4 linked regions of the Homo sapiens genome follow. The protein of the gene in region 2 purifies or fractionates together with the protein of the main gene of each other region. This does not show direct contact. Each region holds a gene or a part of one and is shown on either strand. Other genes may lie near its edges.

Region 1 (7,299 bases), on a different chromosome or scaffold from region 2:
GTGGCGCACACCTATAATCTTAGCTACTCGGGAGGCTGAGGCAGGAGAATTGCTTGAACCCGGGAGCAGAGGTTGCAGGGAGTCGAGATTGCACCACTGCACTCCAGCCTGGGTGACAGAGTGAGTGAGACTCTGTCTCAAAAAAAAAAAAAAAAAAAAAAAAAAATACTGGGTCTCATCTCGTCACCCAGACTGGAGTGCAGTGGTGCACTCATAGTTCACTGCAGCCTCAAACTCCTGGGCTACAGCAACTGTTTATTATATTTTAAATTCCTTGAAGAGAGAAACTATATTTAATTCATCTCCAATTTGAAGTTACATATTGGCACACTGTTGACCTGAATTATAATTCTCCACAAGTCAAGGAGTGTAGAGTTACCAATTTTTTATATTGCGATTATCACCATATACAAAGACACAGCTTCTTCTAAAAGTTAAAAGAAGAAATTTACCTGGGATAAAAATCAAAGAATTTTAGAGTGTGAAGAACATTAAATATTAATTATATCTTTTGGCAATGAAAATTGAGACTGTAAAAGAACTATTTATTATAGGAAATAGTGACTCAAATGAAAAAATATGACCAACATGAATAACAGAAATACACCGGAAGTTATGATAGATCACAGAACTAGACAAATATTAGCTCTTTGTGCTCAAATTATAAATTAAACTAAATAACACATCTTACACCTACAATATATTACTTTTTTATACTCAGAGCACATTACTGACAAAAACCAACTGTATATAAAATACAAATCACTTAAAAAAAAACATACCCATTATTGTATTTAAAAACGGCCGACTTGCAAAACTATAACATACTCAAATAAATCTATAATTATACTCTAGAAAGCTAATGAAATTTAGAGAAATACAAATTTCTCAAGTATGTTTACAGACTTAAAACCCTAAAGTCAGTCAAAATTGTATCTATTGTATCTATAATATTAACAATCTCTAGAGGTAGAAGTATTAATATTCTTAGAAAGCCATATTAGCAATAAATAACCTTAGCTATAACAATTATGGGCTTAAAGTATTTCCCCATTTTAAACTGATTTTTCACAATCATGAGTATATGAATACTTATCAGTAAGAAAAAAATATAAACAGTACAACCAGAAGCACATTAATTATTCAAATAAACAATCTCATCTTGCCCTTGTGGTTATGTTTCTTTAGTGGTGCTGAAAATAATAACTTTTGGTTCCATTAAGGAACTATGATTTTTTTGCACTATGAATTCTAAAGTATCCTGGAACAAAATTATTAAGTAAAACAAAGCATCAAAGATTACTTTAACAAGTTTATAGAATCAGCAGCTTAAGATAAACATGAAAAAAAACTTACAAATAAGGTAGTAAAATATGTCATCAAATAATATATACAAGTAATTTTTGGCACTGTGTTGGATAGATTCAGGAGCTAGTAAGGAGTTATATTGTTCCAGACTGCTAGTTATGTACTACTCTTATATACTATGCACAGGAAACATGGGAAAGTGTTTATATATCTGTTATTACATATAATTATACCTCTGTTACTGCCTCTGGCTTCAAAGGTCACCTCTTTTCTTCATTTTTCAAGATGGCCTCCATCTTCCACCGTTGCCTGCTATCTATACCCTAACAGTCTCAATACTCTGACTAAACTTAACACTGACAACTACCTAGGGGGAAAAAAACCAGAAAATCATATACTCTTTGTAATACTAAACCAAATATTCTGGTGTCAAAAAAGGAAAAAATATAGATGCATAGTTTTTAATTTGTCTTTTGTGCTTCAGAGCTTTGAGGTTACTTCTGAGATGGAAAGACTTAAGTCGCCTAAAAATAATGGATTGTACAAGTAAAAAAAATTCTAAATCTAATTCCTTTTTATTGTTTTTTTTAATAGAATTCTTTTTTATTAGATAGAAACAGGCTTTAGAAAACTAACAATAGCCCAGGTGCAGTGGCTTATGCTTGTAATCCCAGCACTTTTGAGAGGCCAAGGCAGGTGGATTGCTTGTGTCCAGGAGTTTGAGACCAGCCTGGGCTACATGGCAAAGCCCCATCTCTACAAAAAAAATACAAAAATTGGCCAGGTGTGGTGGTTTGCATCTGTAGTCCCAGCTACTTGGGAGGCTGACGTGGGAGGAGCATTTGAGCTTGGGGGGTCAAGGCTGCAGTGGAGCACCCACTGCACTCCAGACTGGGTGACAGAGAGACCTGTCTCAAAAACAAAACAAAACAAAACAGAAAAGTAACAATAAAACAAGTTATAAGAATTAGACCCCAGTCTTTTTTTTATTGTCATTACTTAGGGAGTTAAAGTAGAGAAATAATAGATACAAGCAACACTGGTCATTGAAATGTCACATATACCTTGCTCTCATAAATGAAAAAAATGACATTCTAATTTATGATATCTTTTCCTTTTTTAGTTTATTTTTATTTTTTTGAGACAGGGTTTTCCTGTAGCCCAGGCTGAGGTGCAGTGATGCGACCACAGCTCACAGCAGCCTAGACCTCCCCGGCTCAAGCGACCCTCTCACCTCAGCCTCCTGAGTACCTGGGACCGCAAGTGTGCGCCACCATGCTGGGCTAATTTTTTGTATTTTTGGTAGAAACAGGGTTTCACTATGTTGCCCAGGCTGGTCTCGAACTCCTGGCCTCACAGAATCTGCCCACCTTGGCCTCCCAAAGTGTTGGGCTTACAGGTTCGTGAGCCACCACACCTGGCATCAGTTTCTTTTGAACATAATTATGATCCATATTGCCAAAGCCAAATAAACTTTGGTAAACCAATAAAAACAAGCTTCAAAACTGAGGACAAGATGCTTGATGGTGATAAGATATCTCATCCAAGAGATTCTTGGCAAAAATAAGAAGTAAAAGGAAGTCATAGATAAGTGAGAAGTAATAATGAACAAGAAAGAGCACTAAATGTTTAATAATGGCAAAGGGGACAGAGGCAAATTATAAGATTTAAGAAATTCTACAAAGTTCTTAAATGCAAAGCCCATGAAAAGTGGTTTCTAATTCTACTGTCAAAACAGTAACCAAAACATTACTCTAATATCAGCTGAGTGTAGTCTCCCAAAACCTTCCTACTTCCTTCTTATGCATTTCCTATTATTTCTATGCATTCAAAGACAACTCTTTCAAACAGAGGATACATTTTTGTTTCCTGGTCATAAGTATATCACTGCATTTCTTGTTTTTTTTTTTTTTTTTGAGATGGAGTTTCGCTCTTGTCACCCAGGCTGGAGTGCAATGGCGCGATCTCGGCTCACTGCAACCTCTGCCTCCCGGGTTCAACCGATTCTCCTGTCTCAGCCTCCTGAGTAGCTGGGATTATAGGCACTCGCCACCATGCCTGGCTAATTTTTTGTATTTTTAGTAGAGATGAGGTTTCACCATGTTGGGCAGGCTAGTCTCAAACTCCTGACCTCAGGTGATCCGCCCACCTCAGCCTGCCAAAGTGCTGGGTGGGATTACAGGCTTAAGCCACCACGCCCCGCCGATCACTGCATTTCCAAGAGTAGTGGTGGCCTAAGAAAGCCTATTTGGGCATGATAAACTGGAAATCACTTAATATATATTCCAGTAACCTTCTTTCTTAGGGTCCTATTCATACTAATAATAGGTACCATTATGAAACATCCTCAATATTTTGAGAATTATACTACACATTTCATCTTGATCAAAAAGTATTCTTAAGATAAAGTCAAAAACTCAGAGAAGATAAGTAACCTACGAAAGTTTTCCATAACTGGTAGGATAAGATAGAGGCAACTCAAGCCCAGTTGGTACAACTCTAAAGCCTGTATGTTATCTTCCATCACATGTCACTGTCTTTTCCATAGTACAAACATGAATAATGGCAATGAACAGTAAACTCCAAATAAAAGGCACACGCTGGCTGACACGCACTATTACTGGCTCTGAGGGTTTCTCAGAGCAACAAAGTTCTCCTAGCCTTTGGCCATCTGTGAACTGAAAAAAAAAAATGTTGTCTACATGATTTTTTTGATAGCCCAGCAGCAAGTCTGGCATATTTATACCAGCAAAACATCCTTGTAATCAAACTACCACTAAGAATAAAATGCATTTTAAAATTAGTAAAAGGCTATAAATATACTAATTTGGAATTTAACCAAAATTAAGTTTGCTTTCTAAGTTATCTGGTAAAAATTTTCATAAGCATTAGACATATCAAACTTAAAAACACACACACACAATTACATAAAACAACATTCAAAAGAATTCAGTAACAACTATGTATTTAGTAACCCTATAAACACAACTATGAATCAGTTAAATTTTTTTAAACATGCATTTTAATTAGTAAGCCCCCTTTTTTCTTTTACCTGTACTGTTTTTAACTGTTGGGTCTGTAACACAGAGGGCTGAGTTGTAGTATTAATCAGTTGACTTCCTGGGGTCAATGCTGAGACACCAATGACAGGTTTCACCTCTGGCCTCCCTCCAATGGTAACTACTTTAATTTGCTGCGGTGGTAACTTAGCATCTCCTGACTGGGCCTGAGTTGTAACTTTCTGAGCCTGGGGTAGTTGGCTATGGGGTAGTGCTAAAACAATTGGTGAACCAGACTTGCCCAAAGTTGTTAAAATTAACTTCTGTCCATCTGGTTTAAGGGTCTGATTGCCAAGTTTAAGATCAGATGTCTGTGATACTTTGTTTAAAATAATCTGATTGGCTGATATAGTCACAGGAGTCTGAGCACCAAGTTTTTGAAGGCCACTTGGAAAAGCTGGTTTCACTGTGGTATTAGAATCTGCTTTAGTAATTGTGGTATTCACTGCAACTTGGTTAGTGTGGTTACTGTACACTGTGATTGGTTCCGTGGAAATGGGCGTGGCTGTAGAGTCACCAGTAGAATTTATGTTGACAATTTCTTCCAGTTCTGTCTCCATGGGAATTGGGGATGAAACAATAACAGCCTCAATACTATCATCATCCACTAAAGTTATACCAGTGTCCATTATTTCCTCTGGAAGCAAACTATTCACCTCAGCTGGCACCACCTCCATGATCGTTCTCCCGCTAGAAAGTTGATCAGGCACTGTAATAAAAGTTGAAAAATGAACAAGTTACTAGGTTTCAAAAGATGTAAGAAAAAAATTCAAAAAAAATGCAAATGGCAAAATGACAATTTTTAAATTGATATATAATTGAATGAAGAATATTCCTGAAGCTTATCTGGGTTAAATCATGTTAACACATCCTCAACCTGCAAGAATCTATAATATAAGTCATATGGGAACACAAAACTAGAAGCAAACATTCTTACTCTCGTCTCAATCCACAAGTATCTTGCACTCAGGCAACACTAAGTCACATAATCACATGAAACTCCTTTCCAACGCCCTCTAATAAAATTTGTAATCTTTGATGTATCTGATCTTATTTCTACCCAGATTTTTTTCCTCTCATTGACAGACTTGAAAACTGCTGATTCACACAAGGAAATAAAGATTTAAATATTAACATATTGTAAAATACATTCAAATCTCCAATGAGCTACGTCCTAATATGAGTGTACTATCCCATTTTAAAAATCCATTAAATACCCAAATTAAAGTTAAAGGAGTTTCTAGAGTAATACATCTCAGCAATTGCAGATCAAATAGCATTTGTGGTACAACTTTGACCAACTAGCTTCATACCAGGGAAATTTTTATTTGGAAAGAAGATTCTCAAACCCTCCTTGGCCATTTACTTACTTACTTAATTAATTAATTATTGAGACGGAGTCTCACTCTGTTGCCAAGGCTGAAGTGCAGTGGCACAATCTCAGCTCACTGCAACCTCCGCTTCCTGGGTTCAAGCAATTCTCCTGCCTCAGCCTCCTGAGTAGCTGGAATTACAGGCGCCTGCCACCAAGCCGGGCTAATTTTTGTACTTTTAGTAGAGACAGGGTTTTGCCATGTTGGCCAGGCTGGTCTCGAACTCCTAACCTCGGGTGATCCACCTGCCTCGGCCTCCCAAAGTACTGGGATTACAGGCGTGAGCCACCGTGCCTGGCCATCCTCCGCCATTTAAAGTGTCAAAAAGAACCATTTAAGAGATGTACAGCCAATCCCCATGAAGAAAAAAAGTAATAATCATAAAGCAGATTACGAAAAACTTTGAGCTGTGGTACTTTTAGCCAAAGGTCTGTAGAACTTCCAATAAAGGAATCAATTTTATTATCTTCATGTATAAAAGACAGCACATCATGTTTATGACAGACTAAATAGCAGTGAGTTATTTGCCCAGAGAACATCAAAGATCCATAGGAACCAAATCAGCAACTTTCTTCTCTTCCTTTTCGTTTTTGAGACAGAGTCTCGCTCTTGTTACCCAGGCTGGAGTGCAGTGGCGCAATCTCGGCTCACCGCAACCTCCACCTCCCAGGTTCAAGCGATTCTCCTGCCTCAGCCTCCCAAGTAGCTGGGATTACAGGCATGTGCCACCACGCCCAGCTAATTTTTTGTATTTTTAGTAGAGACAAGGTTTCTCCATGTTGGTCAGGCTGGTCTCAAACTCCCAACCTCAGGTGATCTGCCCACGCTGGCCTCCCAAAGTGCTGGGATTATAGGTGTGAGCCACCATGCCCGGCCCCCTTTTTTTAAATATAAAAATACACCACCCCGGCTGGGCATTCTGGCAGATCACGAGGTAGGCAGATCACAAGGTCAAGAGATGGAGACGATCCTGGCCAACATGGTGAAACCCCGTCTCAACTAAAAATACAAAAATTAGCTGGGCATGGTGGCATGCACCTATAGTCCCAGCTACTCAGGAGGCTGAGGCAGAAGAATCACTTGAACCTGGGAGGCAGAGGTTGCAATGAGCCGAGATCGTGCCACTGCACTTGAGCCGGGCGACAGAGCGAGACCCCATCTCAAAAAAAAAAAAAAAAAAAAAAAAGATACAACACCCATCCAAAATTAACACACAAGTAGCAAATTACAACTATTAGCATTGGCAAATACTACTACCACCAAAATAAACCATCATTATTGAGTGCTTACAACACTGATGACGTAATTTAATTTATCCTCACAACAACTCAGAAATGGGAATCATCATTATCCCTGTTTTATAGATGAGGCCATTTAGAAAGGTTAATTTGCCTAAGGTCACATAGCTAGTAAATGGTAGAGCCAGGACTCCAGCTCAGGTTTTTAATATGCCACAGTTAATTATCTTGGCTGGGCACACTGGCTCTTACCTGTAATCCCAGCACTTTGGGAGGCCGAGGTGGGCAGATCACCTGAGGTCAGGTGTTCGAGACCAGCCT
Region 2 (7,160 bases):
AGGTTTAAATATGCTATATATTACAAATAATAACCCACTGAATTATCACAATAACCCTTAGAGGTAGATGTGATTTTTTTTTTTCTTGAAAAAGGATATCACGATGTTGTCCGGTTTTGAACTCCTGGGCTCAAGCGGTCCTGCTGTCTCAGCCTCCCAAGTAGCTGGGGCTATAGGCACATGCCATAGAGCCCAGCTCAGATAGATATGATTTTTATTCCTATTTTAAAGATGATGAAACTGAGGCACAGAGATGTTAGGCCACGTGCTCAAAGGCACACAGCAAAGAAATTGCAGAGCTGATGATTTGAACCCAGGCTGTCTGGTTCCAAAGCTGAAGTTATGAGACAGAGGCTCAACCTGAGTGCAGAATCTGGTTGAGGCAGTGGTATAATTTTATTTTAATTAATTAATGTATTTCTGTTTTGTGAGACGGAGTCTTGCTCTGTCACCCAGGCTGGAATGCAGTGGCATAATCTTGGCTCACTGCAACCTCCACCTCCCAGGTTCAAGTGATTCTCCTGCCTCAGCCTCCCAAATAGCTGGGATTACAGGCGCCCGCCACCACGCCTGGCTAATTTTTGTATTTTTAGTAGAGATGGGGTCTTACCACGTTGACCAGGCTGGTCTCAAACTCCTGACCTCAGTGATCTGCTGGCCTCAGGCTCCCAAAGTGCTTACAGGCGTGAGCCACCATGCCCGGCCAACAGTGGTATAATTTTAAATCTGAATTCAATCTGAATGAGCTGACATTTAAAAATTGGGAGATTTCTTTCTTTTCTTTTTTTTGAGACGGAGTCTTGCTCTGTCTCCCAGGCTGGAGTGCAGTGGCGTGATCTCGGCTCACTGCAACCTCTGCCTCCTGAGTACAAGTGATTCTCCTGCCTCAGCCTCCCAAAGAACTGGGACTACAGGCGCGTGCCACCATGGTCAACTAATTTTTTCTATTTTTAGTACAGACAGGGTTTCACCATATTGACCAGGCTGATCTCAAACTCCTGACCTCATGATCCACCTGCCTCAGCCTCCCAAAGTGCTGGATTACAGGCAGAAGCCACCGCACCCAGCCAAAATTGGGAGATTTCACCTAAAACATCCTGTTTGGGCTTTTTTTTCCCCCTCGGGAAATGAGATCTAGGCCCACCTTCCTGCCCAGTTAGCCTGTGGCTGCCTCCCGTCATCACAGAACTTGAGGAAGTGATGATGTTACGCTGTCCTCCTACCTTTGAGAGGTGTTTGCTCTGCCTTTCTGACTGGTGGGAGCTCTGGCTCTAGTGCTCAGAGCCTGGAGGGGACACCTGGGAACTTGCCTGACCAGTCCAGGGACTTCCTGAGAAGCCCAGGAGACACAGGGATTCAAACATAGCTCAGAGGAGAGACAGAGTGAGGGTGGGGAAGGGAGTAGCTGAGATTGCAGCAAAGCCTTGGGCAGATGCAGAGGGTACGGATCACGTCCACAACTCTCCTCAGGCCCAGCCTCTCTCCTGAACCCCCGACTTGGGCCTGAAGCCTCCCTCTCAAGGGTCGCCTCACTGTCCCCAAGTCCCTCCCTGTACCTCACCATGGATACCCCTCTCCCTCCCCTACCCAGCCCACCAACCCCATGGCCTGTCCACTAGGCCTCCCGAGTGTCTCTCCCACCCACCTCCTCCCTACTCTACCCATCCTGGTCCTGTCCTTTGCTCCCCCTTGGCTCCCTGCCTCAGTGTCCCCCTTCTGATACACCCTCCACAAGGCAGCCAGGGGAATCTTCCTGAAAAATAACAAACCTGACCCTGATCTTCCCTTGCTTGGAAACTTCCATGACTCCACAGCACCCAGGGGTGGAGTCTGCACTCCTCAGCCTGGCACTCACAGGTGTACACCTTCCCTCACCATCATTTGTGGTCACACCCACTTCTCTTTTCTTTCTTTCTTTTCTTTTCCTTTCTTTTTTTTTTTTTTTGAGACAGGGTCTCAATCTATCACCCAGGCTGGAGTGCAGTGGTGTGATCTCAGCTCACTGCAACCTCCGCCTCCCCGGCTCCAGCGATCCTCCTGCCTCAGCCTCCTGAGTAGCTGGGACTACAGGCTTGTGCCACCACACCTGGCTAATTTTTTTTTTTTTTTTGTATTTTTTATAGAGACAGCGTTTCGCTATGTTGCCCAGGCTGGTCTCAAACTCCTGACCTCAAGTGATCTGCCAGCCTCGGCCTCCCAAAGTGTTGGGATTACAGGTGTGAGCCACCGCACCCAGCCTCCCACTTTGTTTTAATAACACTTTTGCCATGGGACATCCTACATCATTTTACTATTATCTTTCTGTCTAAATTCTGCACCCCTCCCACTGCCCTTACCATGCCAGGCCTGGGATCCGGTCAGCTCCGCCCCAACCCAAAATTCTCTCCTCTTTCTAAGCTTCACCCATTGACCACAGTTCCTATTTTCTAGGATTACTGGAATATAGTGACTGTGAGGATTAAGAGTGCCTGTACTTCAGGCTCACAGCAAGATGTGTGACTCTGATCACTGCTGGAAATGGGGAAACTGAGGGGAAGCCAAGAAAAGAGAACTTCTCGGCTGGGCGCGGGGACTCACGCCTGTAATCTCAGCACTTTGGGAGGCTAAGGCGGGAGGATCGCTTGAGACCAGGAGTTCGAGACCAGCCTGGGCAATATAGCGATACTCCGTCTCTATTTAAATATTTTAAAAATTTAAATTAAAAAAAAGAGGAAAGAAAAGGGCCCTTCTCAGAGTTACCGGCTCAGGATTCCCCATGTCCTACCACGCACGTCATTGCCCGAGCCACCCCATTCAATCTCAAAGCGACTTCAAGCGCACACCGGGAGGGTGTGAAGGTGGCAGGCAACGCTCGCTGCCTGATACAGCGATTGTCAGGTGGGCTTCAGGGAAAAGTCGTGCAGTCCCCTTTCCGCGATACTCCCTTCCACCGGGACTCCACACCCTGTCAACCCGATGGTCCCGACAGGCCCCCGACGTCAGGGTCCTCACCTGATTTCTCCACTTTCACCTTCACAGGGAACATGGTTTGGGTCCGGGATCTGGCTAGCTGGGTCAGAGGCGCCCCAAAGGGCCTAGGGTCACAAGTCAAGGCGGGAGAAGGCGGGGACAGTTCAAAGATGAGCTTCGTGGGCCACGGGTCCTCCGCCTTTGGTTGTGTCCAGCCTGGACCGTGGCCACCACCCTTCTGTGGGCGGGCCCCTTCGGCAGTAGCTTGTTCCTATTAGTTATTGCAGCCGTCAATCTCGCATCCTGACCAATTGAGAGCTGCCTCCGTAGTCTCCCAGCTTTAGGTCCCACCCACCTGGGGCTTTGCTTCCGGAAACAAACCATCTACCCCCTAGCTTCCTGGGAGGTGTAGTTCCAGCTTCCCAGACTCACCCTGAGTAACAGCGCCTGCGCCGCGCGGGGCACGGTGGGAAACAAAGGATTAGGGCATCGCGAGGCTTCCCGGGACTTGTAGTGTGAGAAGGGTTGAGCAACACCAAGTTAGCTCTTTACCGGATTTAACCAACCGTTGGGGTCCCTTCATCCCTAAGAGGAAGACTAATGTAAAATAACGTTGGGTTCCCTCTCACTGAGCACTCGCTAGGTGCCAGGTATCTGTTAATCTCTTTGCAGGTACAACTTCATTCATTTTGCAAATATTTATTAGTGTGTCGGGCACTCTTCTAGGCATTGGAGACACCTTGAGGAACAGAATAGACAAAAATCCCTGCGCTAATGGAGCTTATCTTTTAAAGGAGGGAAGATAAACAGTAAACAAGTAAATTTTAAGTGAAATGTAATAGGAGAAAGAATATGATCTGGGCGGGGCATGGTGGCTCACGCCTGTAAATCCCAGCTCTTTGGGAGGCCTAGGCAGGCAGATCACCTGTGACCAGGAGTTCGAGACCAGCCTGGCCAACATGGTGAAACCCAGTCTTTACTAAAAATACAAAAATTAGCCGGGCATGGTGGCATGCGCCTGTAATCCCAGCTATTCGAGAGTTTGAGGCAGGAGAATCGCTTGAACCCGGGAGGCGGAGGTTGCAGTGAGCCGAGATCGGACCTCTGCACTCCAGCCTGGGTGACAGAGCAAGACTCCATCTAGAAAAACAAACAGACAACAACAACAAACCCCTCTCCCCCCCCAAAAAAAAAACCCACAAAAAAAGTGTAGCCTGAAAGGGACATAGGAATATCAAGGTGGTGATTGAATTTTAAATAAGATGGATGGTCAAGGAAGGATTCTCTGAGAAAGCTCTTGACTATTTTTATTTTTGCAGACAACACTTCCTTCAGAAAACGGGAAACTTCCATTTGTCACACGTCTTGGTCCAGATAAATCCCAGGAAGTAGCATCGTGATCTACACTTCTGATGAGAATACTGCAGCCCACAGTAGGAAAGTTATATTTTTGAATTCACGACTACCAGTACAGGATAACAGCCCCTAGAAATGGAAGCACTAGGCCGATCCTACCACTGCACTCCAGCCTGGCTGACAGAGCAAGACTCTGTCTCAAAAAAAAAAAAAAAAAAGAAAAAAGAAAAAGAAATGGAAGCACTATTCCTTTCTTAGTTTCTCATCTAATAGTTTCCTGAGCAGGAAAGTTCCTAGTTCAGAAGATTATGAGTAGTATGCACTGTAAAAAATGTACATCATGTCTAAATACTAAGCCTCGTACAAAGCTCTCAACAGATGTTTTTAAATATTAATAATCATTTATGCCTCAACCTCTAAAAGATCCCAGGAAGTCAGTATCGAAAGTTAGGGTCCTTTATTGGGGGATGTCAGCAGAGAACGTGGGACATGAAAACAAGTCTTAGGAGTTTGAGAAGGGGCTCCCAGGACAGGCTCCTCTGCTTTAAGGAGCCTGTCCTGGGAGAATAAGCAGGGCCCCAGTATGTGCAGAAGTTGTCAGGGGGTGCCCAGGGGTATGGTGAAGGAGAGGTAGTCCCCAAGGGCACCCCAGCGGGGCCGGTAGATCTGGAAGATGGTGATCCAGGAGGTGAGCACTATCACCCAGAAGAGGAAGCCCACAGCTGAGCGCCAGACATCTGTCATGGGAAACAGAAGCTGGAAGGGTTGGCCTCCGGCTGCTCTCCAGACTTCCCTAGACCAGCCTTCCCTTCTCACCCAGAGCCCCAACATTTTGGATCCTCCATTGTCCCTTCCCACCAAGATTCCCCGCTTCCCCCTCTCCCCTGCCACTGGCCTCCCTCCTCTGTGCTCTAGACTCACAGCCTTTGATTTGGCTCTGTTCTGTGTAGGCTGGGACAAGGAAGGCCTCTCGGAAGAACCAGAAGATGTTGACCAACCAGAGAAAAGGCAGGAAAGCAAACCCCCCTAGGGAGAAAGAAAAACAAACAAACAAACCCCAAAACCTCATAAGGCAATGAAGATCTTCTCCAACTCCCACCGAGATCTATTTGGAAGAAACTCTCCCACACCCAAGTTCAAATGGAGATTTCTGTTGTCAGGGACTCAGGAATCTGGCTCCTCTTTGGGATCCAGGAATCTGATTCCTCAACCATCTCTTTCACAGGACCCAAGAGTCCAGGCCCTCAATCCCCCTCCTCTCTTGGGATCCAGAAATTGAGGCCCCAGCTTCCTCATTCCTCAGGACCCAGGCCCTCCCCACTCAAATCCAGGAGTCGGCGTTCGCAGGTCCTTCATCTCTTAGACTTAAGAATCCAGGCCCCGAGGCCCTCTTCCCTCGGGTGCTCTAGTCCAGTCCCCTCTCTTCTCCTGGGACCCTAGCGATCTGCCTTACCCAGGTAGTACTTCCGGCACAGGTTCAATTTCTCCTCATTGGACACTCGCTCCAGGTTCATAGCTGCGCTGGGGCCGGGTCGTCCCAAGGGTCTGCGGGGCAAGACCCAAGCCTTGACCCTAAGTAACAGATGCAAGGATCACGAACAACCACGCCCCTATTAGAACAAATCAGAGATAAATGTAAAGGTCGGTTTGCTGAAAGCAGGGCATCCCCACCCCCACTAGTAAGCTGGCTGGATTAAAGAGCTCTTTATATTTACTAGGGTGGGCGAAACGACCCCCAACTCACCAGGAGAGCTCACTTCCTCCGGCTGGGGTGCCTTAGCTACTTTCAGTTATGGACGTTTGCGCGAGACGCCCCAGGTTTCCCTGGAGATTGTAGTCTTCTTTGGGCGAGGCAACACTGCACGCATGCGCTGTTAAAAGAACTCCTACCGGGGAGTCTATGGGGAGGGCGCGCGCCTCCCACGCGCAAGCGCCCTGGGGCGTTTCCGAGCGCTTGGTAAGCGCCTGGAGAGGGCAACGAACTACACTTCCCAGTGCTCCTAAGCAACGGAAGTGACGTAAGAGCAGCCAGACCTGGAGGGCTTGGGTAAAAATGGCTGAATATTTAGCTTCGATATTCGGGACTGAGAAGGACAAGTGAGAACGGGCGCTGGGAGTGGACTCTCGGGGGGTCGGGGCCGGGGTACTGGGGTCCTGGGTGGTGGGGCGGTGTTTCTGGGGTGCCCAGCTTCCCCGGCCCTCGGTTCACCTTTGTCTTTGCACCTTTTCCAGGGTTAACTGCTCTTTTTACTTTAAGATCGGGGTCTGCCGGCACGGGGACCGGTGCTCCCGGCTTCACAACAAGCCGACATTCAGCCAGGTGAGACCCGGCACGGAGCCTCGGGGGTTAACGGCTCCCTGGCCCTTCCCCTTCTGGGGCCGTCGTCACCATGTCCCGCCTATTCCGGGTTCCTGAGTCCCTCCCCACCGCCCGGCTTTTTTTCTCATTGGACCTTTCTGCAGGCTCCTCCCACCGGTCTTCGTGCCGTTTTCCCGGGAACTTGGTCGCGCCCCCATGCGTACAGGCTACACACGGCGGCTGTTCATCTTTGCCAGTCCCTTCCATCCCGCTGTTCATCCTTGCCAGTCCCCTCCATCCCTTTTCTGGTTTCTTAGGGGCAAAGGATCGCCGATGCACTCATGATGCTTAGGCTGGGGTGTAAGGTTCCACCCCCAACCTTCATGCCTCACTCTCTGTTCATGCAGCCCTGCCCTCTGAGCTCAGGCCCCGCCCCTTTTAAATTCTGTGCAGACCATAGTGCTGCTCAACCTGTACCGGAATCCACAGAACACAGCCCAAACTGCAGACGGATCACACTGTGAGTAAGGGACCAGGCCTGGGGGCAAGGTGAACA
Region 3 (8,101 bases), on a different chromosome or scaffold from region 2:
GGATGGAAGATGTCCTTTAGCTTCAATGTATTCATTACTGGTCTAAATGAAAATGAGAAGAACTGGAAATTCTTCCTTTTTTCACATTTACACATAGACTGTCTTACAAACCCACTTATATGTATCAATAGCATAGATGTTCTTTTGTAAAAAAAAAAAAAACAGCCAAGATCTGTGTATCACATATATCTCTGGGAGATGGTTTCATAATATTCTTGATTTATGATGTAAAAGCAAATTTAGATGCATAACTACTGCATTTCTCTACTATATCAATATCTCTTAGAAAGCATAAAGTTAAGTCGGTCACAGCATTATCCTCTGCTTCAATAAAGGGTTTAAAAGATAATCTATAATGTTCTATTTTGGCTCTAGAAAATTCACAACTACTTGGATGGTGGAGGGAGAAAAAAAAAAAGAAAAAAAATAGAAAGTTTACAACTATATCGTTCCTAAAAAGAAGAATTAGTCTTGTGAGAATTTTACAGTGCTTAGATGACAAAATGGAGCGCGAAGCTCTTTTAAATAATTTATGCAAAGAGTAGACTCTGTGCCTAGTTTATCTTTGGTCCTAAAAAATATATGTTGAAAATTCCATAATACTAAAAAAGTTATCCTCAAAATTAACATCTCATGGTCACATCTTCTAGGGTCAAATAGATCTGGTTTCAAATTCCGGCTCTGCCATACAGTAGCTATAACACAGTGGGGAAATTACTTAACAGTCTCAGAGGCTGCATTTTCTTGGCTGAGGACTGTGAGAATGAGTTACAGGTTAAAAATGCACAGAAAATACAAGAAATCAAGTTAAAATTCCATAACCAGTATTCTGTATTAAACATCATAAGAGCTTTATTTTCCCTTGCACTCCCATGAGAATGACATCCCATATTGTCACAGCGTACCTCACTGTAAGCCCCACAAGAGCAGGTTTGCTGCTCTATATCCAGCACCTAGAACAATGTGTAGCAAGTAATAGGTGCTCAAGAAATATTTGATGAATATTTTACTGAGTAAATCATTTACTGAATAAACTGGGCTAAGAAGCTGAAACTAAAGTCTCAGTAATCAAAAGAATTGAGTAATCAAACATGTTTTCAAAAATAATTTACTAACCAGCTATTACGTGATACTTGCTCATGTATCACTAGACTTCATACAACTTAACTGCTATGAGTTGAAATACCTCAAATAAATGGCGATAATGCTTGTTCTATCTGATTTACAGGATTATCTTGAGGGTAAAATAAGAGCTTGTTTGGAAGCCTTTAAGGCCATTTACCAAAAAAAAACCCAAAAAACAAAAAACAACATAAAAAGCCAACCAGTCCTTCTCTTTGCCAGACTACAGAAAGGCACTGAGAGATGAATAGGAACATAGCTTACTCAGCCAGATCATGTAAATATACAAAGAGCTTAGTAAACTTGAAAACACTGTCCATATGGGTGCTTTATGTGCCAGAAACTACATTATTGCCTTATTTAATCTTCAGAACAGCTCTGTGAGGTAAACACAAATATCTCCAGTTTAGAGATCACCATACTGAACTTTTCCAGCGGTTTCAGGTCTGTCGGGTTCTAAAGCCACCATACACTATCTTCTGCAGACCTAACAATTCAAAGAGGGAACTAGTAATTGAATTAAAATTCTATTAATGCAAATACAAATTAAAAATAACCTCACTCATCAGTACACATAGCCAAAAACATCATATTTAAATAATACCTTGGTTAGGCTTTGCATCCTGGACCTATTTGCCCGACTCTTTCTACAAATTAATTATAAAACGACTTGAGAAATCAAATGGCCTCAGGTTTAAATGCCACACACACAGTCAAACAGCTGATAAACAATCCGTACTTCCGTGTCACTTCCCATTGGCCCATGAAGGGGAGGTGCATACAAAGCTGACACTCACTGGCTAGAATGGCCATTTTTCTCATCTGCAAGCCCTGTCCGAAGGCTGCGACCTAACACACCCGGATCGCAACAACAACAGGAGTCCTGTGCAATGCCCGGGGTGACCAAAAAGCCCTCGAGGTAGCCACAGTCCTGATCCTAGTGACAAATGGGGGCATGTGTCTACATCCGGGTCGGCGGAGGGCTCATTTCATCTGGCCTGGGGGGAAATGAGTATTAATTTGTTTACACAGACGTAAACACAGCCCAAAACGCATCAGCACGTTGACTCAAACGCCCGCAACGCCAGGGCAAAGGCAATTTGGTTAACAGGGGGAAGCGAACAGACGGAGACGCCTGGAGACCCAGGTGCCACAACCCGGTTAATCGCGGTGCAAATAAGGGCAAGTCCCCTCCCCTTGTCCGTGTGGTCTTGACAACGACACTAGTTCATTCTACTAACAAGGCGGGCGGGGGGTCAGATGGGCCACACACACCCATTTTCCTCAACGGGACCCCAGCGCGATCTCAGCCTTGCTGTGCTACTTTAGGGCAAGACGCGTTCCCCATTCGGAAGCCGCAGGAAAGCGCGGCGAGAGCGGGTTAGCCCTCGGAGCGGCTAAGAGCCTCGGAATAGCGCAGAGGAAGTCCCCACCCCTCTCGGGGCTGGGAGCCCGCAACCCGCCCGAGAGTCTCTCGAGGCGCGCGACGCGGCTCGGAAGGCACCGGTTCACGCCAACTAGGCCGGAAGCGCCCCTCCGCCCGCGAGCGCACCTCCAGCGTGTAGCTTTCGCTCATGCTGCGGTAGCTGTCCCAGGCCTCGGCCCGCGCCGCCTCGTCCATGTTGAGGCGGCTGCACAGCTCGTCGAACCGCTGCTGGATCTGAGGGGTGGGCGACTCGGCAGGCGGCGCGGCGTCTTCCGCCTCGCCGTCGTCCTCCTCCTCCTCATCCGAGGCTGCCGCCGCCGGAGGGGGAGGCGGGGGCGGTGGCGACTGGTCACCTCCCGACGGCATAGCGCACCCCTGGGCGGCCGGACCTCAGGTGAGGTGAGGGCCCGGGCCCGCAGCCATTCAAACGGCGAAGCGCCCGCCCGTCCGCCGCCCGCACCGCGCCTGCGCCGCCGCAAACGACGCTGACCGCCTGCAGGCACCCGTAGTCTTGAGCACGGGCTGCTGGGAAACGTAGTCCAGGCCGGCGGTTCAAGGGGGCCAAAAATCATGTTTAAAAAAATTAGCTCCCCTAGTTTCACCAGGGGTGAAATAAAAGCACCTTCCCCGCATTTTAAACACGTACCTCCCCACCGTGAGAACATTCAACAGGGCTGTACTGACGAGAAAATGTCCAAAAGACACTGACGTGTGAAGGTTTCGTATCCAGGCTGTTCCCAGAAGTAAAACTTCCTCATCGCCTGGATATCCTTATCTAAAAAATAGGGATAATAGCAAGGGCCTGTCTCTGTACGTTCACGAAACTGCCTTTGCAAAAATCCTAACAGTGAGAAAGTTATGACAGTGCAAGGGATCTGACCTAAATGACTCCACGCTTCTCACTTCCGAGCTGCCCTTGTTCATTCCTGGGCGAAGACCTAACTAACTACAGGAGGAATTTAATTTCTAATTTCACTTTGAAACAAAGATTGTAACAGTCCTTTCCAAAAACAAACCCCATTCTTGCCTGGGGATCAGTCTGCCTTTGTAGAACTAACAAATTAGCCACAAGATTAGAAATTATGATTTAGGAGGCTTGCAGCCAGAGGCTATAAGATTCCTGACCTCCCCAATTGCTCTCAGGGATAACATCACTATTGTAAAACCTAAGATTGGTGCTGGAGATACTTTTCAGACCGCGCATTCCGATGCACTAGCTGGCGCCACTCAGACCATAATCTGGCTCAACAAGTTCTGCAATTCCACTCAGTAACAGAAGACAGCAAGAGCCCACTTCAACCCCCTGTGATTTCACCTCCCACCTGACAAATTAGCATTCGCCAATCCCTGGCCCCCTACCCGCCAAGTCATTCTTTAAAAACCCCAGTCTCCGAATTTTCTGGTAGGCTGATTTGAATAACCAAACTCCTGTCTGCCGTTCAGCTGGCTCTGCGTGAATTAAACTTTTTTTTTTTTTTTGAGACAGAGTCTGGCTCTGTTGCCCAGGCTGGAGTGTAGTGGCACGATCTCGGCTCACTGCAACCTCCGCCTCCTGGGTTCAAGCGATTCTCCTGCCTCAGCCTCCTGAGTATCTGGGATTACAGGTGTGCGCCACCGCACCCAGCTAATTTTTGTATTTTCAGTACAGGCAGGGTTTCACCATGTTGGCCAGGCTGGTCTCGAACTCCTGACCTCAAGTGATCCACCCACCTCGGCCTCCCAAAGTTCTGGGATTACAGGCGTGAGCCACCGTGCCCAGCCAATTCATTTTATTTCCAATTCTCCTTTCTTTATTTTAATTTTTTAAATTGCCAATCCTTGATTTATAAATGGGCTTGATATAAAACATTTTCCAGATTGAGGAGCAATCTGAGGATTGAGCAATTTGAGGATTCAGAAGGCATTACTGTTTTGCTATTTTTGTTTTGCTTGGTGGGATATGTAAACTGACAGAGGGAAAAGTGCTGGGACAAAAGTAGGGGCTTATGGAAGGTATAATGACAGGCGGGAGGACAGGAAATGGAACTCTGAAGATAGGAGAAAATCAGGTAGACAGGTAACAGGATATTTCAGGAACAATTTTGAGACAATGGAACCCTCTTAAGAAAACCTTAGTAAAATTCACAGTAATCAGCAATGCTTTTGGAGTTGGCTAAGTGATGAGTCTCAAGGTGACTATGGGGCAAGAACAGAAGTTGAACACAAATGGTTTAGAAGTATCTTAAGTATATAGGCTGGACGTTGTGGATCACACCTGTAAATCCAGCACTTTGGGAGGTCAAGGTGGGAGGACTGCTTGAGTACAGGAGTTCGAGACCAGCCTGGGCGACATAGTGAAACCCTGTCTCTACAAAAAATAGAAAAATTAACCCAGAGTGGTGGTACACGCCTGTAATCCTAGCTACTTGGGAGACTGAGGTGGGAGGAACGCCTAAGCCTGGGGAGTCTGCAGTGAACTGTGACCATGCCACTACAGCTTGGGCAACAGAGACCCTGTCTCAAAAAAATAATAATAAATAATTTGGCAAGGCGCGGTGGCTCACGCCTGTAATCCCTACACTTTGGGAGGCCAAGGCGGGCAGATCACTTAAGGTTAGGAGTTTAAGACCAGCCTGGCAAACATTGTGAAACCCCATTTCTACTAAAAATACAAAAAATTAGCCAGGAGTGGTGGCTGGTGCCAGTAATCCCAGCTACTCAGGAGGCTGAGGCAGGAGAATTGCTGGAACCCAGGAGGCAAAGACTGCAGTTAGCTGGGATCATGCCACTGCACTCCAGCCTGGGCGACAGAGCAACTCCATCTCAATAAATAAATAAATTAATAAATAATAAGTGTATTAAAATCTTAGTATTTTACCTGTATATACACTGGGAATATTGATTTTAAAATAATGATATTTCTTCCTTTGGAAATCATTATCAACACTTTACTATGTCAAAGCAAATAAAGAGGCCATGAGCCTGATATCATCTGTCTCTGTAGCTGGAGCTTATATGTAAGCAAACCAGAATTCAGTGTAAACAGTAAGACAACAGTAAAACAAAACATAAGCTTAACCAATCAGAAACTGCCAACTAGCCTCTAATTAGGGATTTTCCTTTTTTTTTTTTTTTTTTTTTTTTGGTGACAGAGTCTTGCCTTGTCACGCAGGCTGGAGTGCAATGATGCAATCTCGGCTTACTGCAACCTCTGCCTCCCAGGTTCAAGCGATTCTCCTGCCTCAGCCTCCAGAGTGGCTGGGATTACAGGAGCCAACCACCACACCGGCTAATTTTTGTATTTTTAGTAGAGACGGGGTTTAAGCACATTGGCCAGGCTGGTCTTGAACTCCTGACCTCAAATGATCCAACCACCTCGGCCTTCCAAAGTGCTGGGATTACAGGCATGAGCCACCGGGCCCAGCCCTCACACCCAAATAAGGCAAACACCCAGCTGTAGCCAATCAAGTAACTGTTTTACTTTTCTATTAAAGCTTACTGCTCACCTGCAGAAGCGCTCTGAATATCTTCTTGTTTTAAGTGGTGCCCAATTCATGAATTGTTGTTTGCTTAAACTGTTAACTTGTCCAAAGTTTTTCTTTTAGCAACTAAGAGAAAAACTTAAATTGTTTTAACAATTAAAGTTTAACTTCAAACTGTTTAACTTAAACAAACGATGTGAAATTATCTTTACTATTTTTAGTAAAAGTTAATGTAATTTAAATAATTATTGCAATGTAAGCAAAATTGGTGGCAATAAACCATCAAATATGTATTTATTAAAATATCCTTTGCTTGTTAATACCAATGTTTTCAAAGCCTTTTGGGATGGGGGTGGGGTGGAATGGGGGTGTGAGTGTTACCTGAAAGGAGTCCCGATCCAGACCCCAAGAGAGGGTTCTTGGATCTCATGTAAGAAAGAATTCAGGGCGAGTCCACAGTGCAAAGCAAAAGAAAGTTTATTAAGAAAGTAAAGTGATGAGAGAACAGTTACTCCATAGAGAGTAGGACGTTCCCGAAAGTAGGAGGAGGAATGCATCCACCCTAGGTACAATACTTGTTTATAAATAGGATTTAGAAAGATCATGAGGAGATGTGCTCTGCCACAAGGGTTTGTGATAAAGGATTAATCTTCCTAATTACTATATTTTGCAAGAATTGATATTATCTTTAAAGCAAAATTAGGAATGCTTCTGTTCTCAAGATATCGGGATATCAGGACACTCCTAAGTCTGGGTCTGTTTAGTAAATGTTATCAATGTGTTCCCTTAACTATAAACATCTAGGGGCTAGGAATACCTAACTTTCTAGGAATGCAGCCCAGCCAGTCCCAGCCCCATTTTTCCTAGCCATCACTCAAGATGGAGTCACTCTGGTTTGGATGCCTCTGATATGGAGAAGTTAAATTTCCTTGAGGTTATTATTTGACTTATGAAGCTTAGTCATAAAATGCAAGAGGTCTTTCACCTGACTGGCACATGTGCTCTCTCTGTCTCTCATTCTCTCAGTCATTCTTCATTCACTCTTTGTACCCAGCCAACATACTGTGGGAAAGACCAGGTCACCTATTGTCAAAGATAAACAAAGCCGAACATTAGTTAAAGTGTGAAAAACGGATTTTACTGAGTAACTACTGACAGACAGCAGGGAAAGAGCTGAGCTTCATTCCAACTTTTTTAGATGTGACTTGGCCTTTTAAAGAAAGAGTAAAGGAGGAGGGGGAGAGAGCAGAGCTTGAGTAAAAAATTACAAAAGGTGGGTCAATGTTAATGTCATTAGGCTAGTTGTGTCTACTAGCCAGCAACTATCAAAGTCAGGCTACTGTCCCCTACACAGACTGGAAGACAGAACCCCTATTCTTCCTGATGATTTCAATGGGAGGGTGGGGGCAGGGAGCCCAGGATCATTCCAGAGAATTGACCCTAAGCTCCCAGAAGCAATGCAAAAATTTGATCCTCTCTCTCTCTCTCTTTTCTTTTGCTCATGAGATATGGTCATCTCTTAAGTGCAGAGGTTTGGAAGGAGCCTTTATGTGCCAAGAATTCTGCAGTTATCACCATGTGGATAGGACCCAAGGCCTCTGGCCCTCAGCTGTGTTGAATAAGCCAGTTTGGAAGCCGAAGCAGATCCTCCAGCCTTCAGTCAAATTGTCCTAGCTGATGTTGTATACAACAGAGATGAACCTTCCCACTGAGCCCTGCCCAACTGAAATCTGTGGGACAAAAAAATGATGTTTGACATTAACGTTCCTTCAAAGAAAGAGATTTTAAGTCACAGCCATTTTTGATCGTGGAGGTTAACTGATTCTGTCTTAGTTCTTGAGCAAGATGCTAGGAGTTGAAATTGTAACTGTCCAGTGAGTTTTTCTGGCCTGCTGCCCAGACTGAGTAGATTTATCAAGATAGGGGAATTGCATTAGAGAAAGAGTTTAATACACTCACAGCCAGCTAAACAGGAGACCGGACTTGTATGACTCAAATCAGTCTCCCTGAAAATTTGGAGACCAGGGTTTTTTAAGGATAATTTGCTGGGCAGGGGAGGGGTCTAGGGAGTGGGAACACTGGTGGAGTTGGG
Region 4 (7,299 bases), on a different chromosome or scaffold from region 2:
GGGCAACAGAGGAAGACCCTGTCTCAAAAAAAAAAAAAAAAAAAACAGTTAGTTGGGCATGGTAATGCACACCTATAGTCCTAGCTACTTAGGAGGCTGAGGCAGGAGGATGGCTTGAACTCAGGAGTTGGAGGCTGCAGTAAGCTATCATCGTGACATTGCACTTTAGCCTGGGTGATAGGATGAGCCTCTGTCTCTAAAAAAAATATATAATTAAAATAACATCTTTGCCTGAGCTCAGGAGTTGGAGACCAGCCTGGGCAACACAGTGAAACCCCGTCTCTACTAAAATACAAAAGATTAGCTGGGTGTGGCGGCATGTGCCTGTAGTCCCAGCTATTCAGGAGGCTGAGGCAGGAGAATTGCTTGAACCCGGGAGGTGGAGGTTGCAGTGAGCTGAGATCACGCCATTGCACTCCAACCTGGGCAACAGAGCGAGACTCCATCTCAAAAAAAAAAAAGTTCAATCTCACCAAAAAGGAAATGTAAAATGAAACTAATAGATTAGTAACATCTAATACTGGCTAGTATGTGAGGAAAGGGGCCCTCATACAGTTATCCTCTTCCATGTATATGAAGATATGTGTACATGGGTATTCACTGATAAACTGTCTGTAAAGTCAAAAACTAGATATAGGCCAGGCACAGTGCCTCACACCTGTAATCCCAGTGCTCTGGGAGGCCAAGGTGGAAAGACAGCCTGAGCCCAGGAGTCTGAGACCAGTCTGGGCAACACAGTGAGATCTTGTCCCCCCCAAAATTTTTTAAATAGCTGGTTGTGGTGGTACATGCCTGTGGTCCCAGCTACTCAGGAGGCTGAAGTGAGAGGATCACTTGAGCCCAGGAGGTTGAGGCTGCAGTCAGCTGTGATCACGCCACTGCACAAAGCCTGGGTGACAGAGTGAGACCCTTGCTCAAATTAAAAAAAAAAAAAAACTACAAAGTAGATATAACTTAAGTTTCCAAATAATGTATGAATACATAAACTATAATATATCCATACAATGAAATATATTTAAAAGAATGAAGTAGACATACACATACCAAGATGGAACTGTTCACATGTGGAGTAAGTTAAGTGGCAGGCCACATGCATATGACTCCAACATTATGAAGAAAAAAAAAATCCCTCTTATACATACTTAAAAAATTATTATTTCCTTATCTGTATAAAATAGGTCAAAAGGATTTGTACCTTTTTTTTTTTTTTTGAGACAGAGTTTCACTCTTGTTGCTCAACCTGGAGTGCAATGGAGTGATCTCAGCTCACTGCAATCTCTGCTCACTGCAACCTCTGCCTCCCGGGTTCAAGCGATTCTCCTGCCTCAGCCTCCCAAGTAGCTGGGATTACAGGCATGTGCCACCACGCTCAGCTAATTTTTTGTATTTTTAGTAGAAACGGGGTTTCGCCATGTTAGCTAGGCTGATCTCAAACTCCTGACTTCAGGTAATCCGCCCACCTCGGCCTCTCAAAGTGCTTGGATTACAGGCGTGAGCCATCACACCTGGCCGGAGTTGTACCTTTTACAAGGATTTGTACGATTAACAGTGGTTAACGTTATAAGAGTGGGCCAGGTGCAGTGGTTCAGGCCTCTAATACTAGCACTTTGGGAGGCTGAGGCAGGCAGATCATCTGAGGTCTGGAGTTCAAGACCAGCCTGTCCAACATGGTGAAGCCTCTTCTCTACTATAAATACAAAAATTAGCCAGGTGTGGTGGCATGCACCTGTGATCCCAGCTACTTGGGGGGCTGAGGCAGGAGAATTGCTTGAACCCGGAAGCAGAGGTTGCTGTGAGCCAAGACTGCACCATTATACTGCACAGCCTGGGGAACAAGAGTGAAACTCCATCTCAAAAAAAAAAAAAAAAAAAAGAGTGATTGAAAAAGGTGAGAAAACGCTTTATATATCTCAGTATTATGTGAATTTCTTATAAATGTAGTTTTGGGGGCTGGCTGTGGTGGCTCACTCCTGAAATTTCGGCACTTTGGGAGGCCGAGGTGGGCGGATCACCTGAGGTCAGGAGTTCAAGACCAACCTACTTGGTGAAAAGCCGTCTGTACTACAAATACAAAAATTAGCTGAGCATTGTGGCGGGCACCTATAATCTCAGCTACTCGGGAGGCTGAGGCAGGAGCATCGCTTGAACCAGGGAGGCGGACGTTGCAGTGAGCCGAGATTGCACCATTGCACTCCAGCCTGAGCGACATGAGCAAGACTCCATCTCAAATAAATAAATACACAAACAAACAAATAAGTGTAGTTTGGGGGATTTTTTTGAGAAAGAGTCTTTCTCTGTTGCCCAGGCTCGAGTGCAATAGTGCAATCTTGGCTCACTGCAACCTCCGCCTCCCGGGTTCAGGCAATTCTCGTGCCTTAGCCTCCTGAGTAGCTGGGATAGCAGGTGTGCACCACCACGGCCAGTTAATTTTTGTATTTTTGATAGAGACAGGGTTTCGCCATGTTGGCGAGGCTGGTCTCAAACTCCTAGCCTCAAGTGATCCACCCGCATTGGCCTCCCAAAGTGCTGGGACTACAGGCATGAACCACCATGCCCAGCCTATAAATGTAGTTTTAAAAAGTAATTAATGGCCAGCCATGGTGGCTCACGCCTGTAATCCCAGCACTCTGGGAGGCCGAGGTGGGTGGATCACCTGAGATCAGGAGTTTGAGACCAGCCTGGCCAACATGGCAAAACCCTGTCTCTACTAAAAATACAAAAAATTAGCCGGGCATTGCGGCATGTGCCTGTAATCCCAGCTACTCGGGAGCCGAGGCAGGAGAATCGCTTGAACCTGGGAGGCAGAGGTTGCAGTGAGCCAACACTGAGCAATTGCACTCCAGCCTGGGCAACTAGAGCGAAACTCCGTCTAAAAAAAACATATATATATATATACATATATATAATAATAATAATTATTGTTGGCTAGGCACGGTGGCTCACACCTGTAATCCCAGCACTTTGGGACGCTGAGGCAGGTGGATCACCTGAGGTCAGGAGTTCGAGACCAGCCTGGCCAACATGGTGAAACCCTGTCTCTACTAAAAATACAAAAAATTAGCCGGGCATGGTGGCATGCACCTGTAGTCCCAGCTACTTGGGAGGCTGAGGCAGGACAATCGCTTGAACCCTGAGGCAGAGGATGCAGTGACCCGAGTGCACCACTGCACTCCACCCTGGGCGACAGAGAGAGACTCTGGTTCAAACAAAATAATTATTATTGTTTAATGGCTCCTTATTTTCTGAGTCACACTGTGTTCTGAACAAATTAAACCACCAAACAGCTATTCTTAACACTGGACTTCAATCTCTTCTCTTTGAAATAAAATAAAACTTTAATCATTAAAGTTAAATGATAACTCTTCAGCCTGGTCTGATGGTAATGGGTTATCAGAACTTTTTTTTTTTTTTTTTTTTTTTTGAGACAGAGTCTCACCCTGTCACACAGGCTGAAGTGCAGTGGCACAATCTCTGCTCACTGCAGCCTCCGCCTCCTGGGTTCAAAAGATTCTCATGCCTCAGCCTCCTGAGTAGCTGGGATTACAGGTGTGTGCCACCACATCCAGCTAATATTTCTATTTTTTTTTTAGTAGAGACAGGGTTTCACCATGTTGGCCACGCTGGTCTCAAACTCCTGACCTCAGGTGATCCTCCCAACTCGGCCTCCCAAAGTGCTGGGATTACAGGCATGAGCCAACAAGCTCAGCCTGTTATCAGAACTTATTAACGTTAGTGTCACTAAAGTTTGTATACAACCCCCCACTGCTAAATTTGACTAGCTTCAAAATAAATAAAAATTTACAAAATAAATAACTCTTTAAAAATCTCTTTAAAAAGGAACATTGTTTCTCCTGCATTGACTCTGATATAAAGAAGGCAAAAACTTACATTGTTCTGGCCAAAGATCTGGTGAGGCACGGTCAAGTTTTTCAAAACTTAGCAAAGATGCTTCCAGATCTGTCCCTAGAACAAAACATCCAGATGAACCAAGAAGACAGGAAACACATTAATGTATATGATACTTCAATCTCAAAGGACATAAACTGGAACACTCACCTGGAAGTCTAGAGATATGAGTTCTGTAACTATTGATGCCACTGGTCCGTGATAGAATACAAATAAATCATTCTCCCTTACCAAACCTCACTCTTTCAATCTATGAATGGGAATGATATTTTATTGGGAGTGTTAAGAAAAATGAGTATCAATGAACCCACCTGCATCTTCATTCATACTCTTGTGCTTTCCTCCAGTTACAATGAATTAAGTGTTTCTCCTTCCATGAAACAGACTCTTCTGATAGCACTCTAGATGCCATCTTCTCTTGCTTTATCAAGGACATCATTTGCATATCATCTTTCTCAGGTACCATCAGTTTCTACCTTCTCTAGCCTCATCTCAGTGTCACTAAAGTTTGTACACAACCCCCCACTGCTAAATTTGACTAGCTTCAAAATAAATAAAACTTTACAAAATAAGTAACTCTTTAAAAATCTCTTTAAAAAGGAGCAGTACCAATCAAGCTGGTTGCAGAATTTCTGTGTTTCAAAAAAAAACCCCAGCCGGACATGGTGGCTCATGCCTGTAATCCCAGCACTTTGGGAGGCCAACACGGGTGAATCACAAGGTCAGGAGTTTGAGACCAGCCTGGCCAACGTGGTGAAACCCTGTCTCTACTAAAAATACAAAAAATTAGCTGGGTGTGGTAGCAGGCGCCTGTAATCCCAGCTACTCAGGAGGCTGAGGGAGGAGAATTGCTTAAACCCGGGAGGCAGAGGTTACAGTGAGCCAAGATTGCACCACTGTACTCCAGCCCAGGCAACAGAATGAGACGCCATCTCAAAAAAACAAACAAACAAACAAACAAAAAACACCAGGGCAGGTGGGGTGCCTCATGCCTATAATCCCAGCACTTTGGGAGGCCAAGATGGGTGGATCACTTGAGGTCCGGAGTTCAAGACCAGCCTGGCCAACATAGTGAAACCCTGTCTCTACTAAAAATACAAAAATTGGTCAGGCATGGGGGAACACACCTGTAATCCTAGTTACTGGGGAGGATGAGGCAGGAGAATCGTTTGAACCTGGGAGGTGGAGGTTGCAGTGAGCCAAGATCACACCACTGCACTCCAGCCTGGGCAACAAAGCAAGACTCCATCTCAAAAAAAAAAAAAAAAAAGAGTGCACTGTTATACATGCCCACTTGGGCTTTGGGAGTCACAGGCACCCACCCCTAGATGCTACCGTGGGGCTGGAGCCCAAAAGTGCTCGCCCTGACTCCTACACCTGCCCATCTGCGTGCTCCCTCTCCCATAAGAGGATTGAGTGCACACAGACAAGCCACACCCCTGTCGTATGTCCTGCGGTTAGGGAACTCCCCTATTTCAACATGAGGACTTTTATCTTCATCTGTATGCCAATGACTCCATATTTATATTTCCATTCCCAACCTTTCTAAAGAACTACAAAGGTTTATGTCCAAGTGGTTATTTGAATCCCTCTCTATTTACATATAAAAAAACTGCTTAAGGCCAGATGCAGTGGTGCACGCCTGTAATCCCAGCAGTTTTGGGAGGCCGAGGTGGGTGGATTGCTTGAGCTCACGAGTTTGAGACCAGCCTGGCCAACATAGTGAAAACCCATCTCTACAAAAAGCAAAAAAATTAGCCAGGTGTGGTGGTGTCAGCCTGTAGTCCCAGCTACTTGGGAGGCTGAGGTGGAAGGATGGCTTGAGCCCAGAGGTGGCAGCTGCAGTTAGCTAAGGTCACACCACTGCACTCCAGCCTGGGTGATAGAGCCACATCCTGTCTCAAAAAAAAAAAAAAAATCCCCACTTAAACTTTAAACCTAATTATCTTCAAAACCATATTCCCCCAATCTTCTCCCATCTCAAGAAATAACACTACCATAAATTCCAATTCTCAGATCAAAAACCCAGATGTCATCCTTCATGCATTCTTTTCCTTCACCCTTCCATAACCAATCCATGAGTAAATCTAGTCGTTTCTACCTTCAGAATACACCCTGAAATCAAATAACCCAAGGAACCATCACTTCTTTCTTGGACTACTTCAACAGCCTCTTAACAGATCTCTCTGCTCCCATTCTTACCCTTTCCCCTTCACACCCCCGGAATCTATTCTCCATAAAGAGGCCAGAATTGATTTTTTTAAACGTCAATCAGTTCGTGTCTCTCTCCAGCTTAAAGTTCCTCCCAGCTAAATCTGTGAATGTGTATCTACCACACTCTATAAAATCTTACTCAGCCTCTACCTAATTCTTTGACATCATTTCTCTTCCACTCTTCCCTTGCACACAGTAGTACTCAATATTAACATTTGTTGAGTTTTTATTGTATGCTCAGTATGCTAACCAGTTGCATAACTAGTTCATTTAATGCTATAAACAGCAGTTCTTAACATTTTCTGGGTAACCACATCTCTGGAAATCTGGGAAATAAAATGAACTCACTCCCCAGAAAATATACATACGTACAAAATGTACTTTTCTCTAAACTGAATTTGTTTTGCCAAATATTCCAAAGGAATTTCCAATGGCATTTTAATTGTAAAGAACTCAACTAATACATTGCCTTAATTAAAGCATCCAAAAATTAGCTTCTCTTTGTTACCGATTTCTGAGGAATGTTCAACCATAACAAAAGTAAAGTTATTGGGCCAGGTACAGTGGCTCATGTCTGGAATCCCAGTGCTTTGGGAAGCCGAGGCAGGAAGATTGCTTGAGCCCAGGAGTTTGAGACCATCCTGGGCAACATAGTGAGACTCCATCTCTACAAAAAATAATAAGGTGGGGGCATGGTGGCTCACGCCTGTAATCCTAGCACTTTGGGAGGCCGAGGTGAGTGCATCACCTGAGGTCAGGAGTTCAAGACTAGCCTGGGCAACATGGTGAAACCCCGTCTCTACTCAAAATACAAAAATTAGCCAGGTGTGGTGGCGTGTGCCTGTTATCCCAGCTACTGGAGAGGCTGATGCATGAGAATTACTTGAACCCAGGAGGCGGAGGTTGCAGTGACCCGAGATCATGCCACAGCACTCCAGCCTGGGTGACAGAGTGAGACTCCGTCTCAAAACAAAATAAATAATAATAATAATAAATTAGCTGGGCATGGTGGTGTGAGCCTATAGTACCAGCTACTTAGGAGGCTGAGATGGGAGAATCGCTTGAGCCTTTGAGGGTGCAGTGAGCTATAATCATATCACTGCATTTCAGCATGGGCAATAGAGTGAGAGAGACCCTGTCTCTAAAAGAAAGTTAAAAAAAAATTATTGGGGGTACAAT

The links.
Region 1: the proteins of LIN37 (region 2) and LIN54 purify together in Homo sapiens (affinity purification with mass spectrometry; 6 studies listed by BioGRID and IntAct, with this or other methods). This does not show direct contact.
Region 3: the proteins of LIN37 (region 2) and RBL2 purify together in Homo sapiens (affinity purification with western blotting; 5 studies listed by BioGRID and IntAct, with this or other methods). This does not show direct contact.
Region 4: the proteins of LIN37 (region 2) and LIN52 purify together in Homo sapiens (affinity purification with mass spectrometry; 8 studies listed by BioGRID and IntAct, with this or other methods). This does not show direct contact.

The regions. Positions count from the first base shown.
Region 1 is NC_000004.12:82,979,801-82,987,099, forward strand, and holds part of LIN54 (protein lin-54 homolog), read right to left. Parts: intron 5,077-7,299; 5' UTR 5,045-5,076; coding exon 4,361-5,044; intron 1-4,360. UniProt on the Homo sapiens protein: Component of the DREAM complex, a multiprotein complex that can both act as a transcription activator or repressor depending on the context. In G0 phase, the complex binds to more than 800 promoters and is required for repression of E2F target genes.
Region 2 is NC_000019.10:35,744,590-35,751,749, reverse strand, and holds the start of LIN37 (protein lin-37 homolog), read right to left. Parts: upstream 3,175-7,160; 5' UTR 3,026-3,174; coding exon 2,992-3,025; intron 2,937-2,991; exon of another isoform or gene 2,740-2,936; intron 1-2,739. Other genes in the region: PSENEN (gamma-secretase subunit PEN-2), read right to left, coding at 4,903-5,042, 5,227-5,331, 5,759-5,819; U2AF1L4 (splicing factor U2AF 26 kDa subunit), read left to right, coding at 6,359-6,402, 6,538-6,625.
Region 3 is NC_000016.10:53,429,370-53,437,470, reverse strand, and holds the start of RBL2 (retinoblastoma-like protein 2), read right to left. Parts: upstream 3,001-8,101; 5' UTR 2,915-3,000; coding exon 2,675-2,914; intron 1,853-2,674; exon of another isoform or gene 1,745-1,852; coding exon of another isoform or gene 1,727-1,744; intron 1-1,726. UniProt on the Homo sapiens protein: Key regulator of entry into cell division. Directly involved in heterochromatin formation by maintaining overall chromatin structure and, in particular, that of constitutive heterochromatin by stabilizing histone methylation.
Region 4 is NC_000014.9:74,087,896-74,095,194, reverse strand, and holds part of LIN52 (protein lin-52 homolog), read right to left. Parts: intron 3,964-7,299; coding exon 3,889-3,963; intron 1-3,888.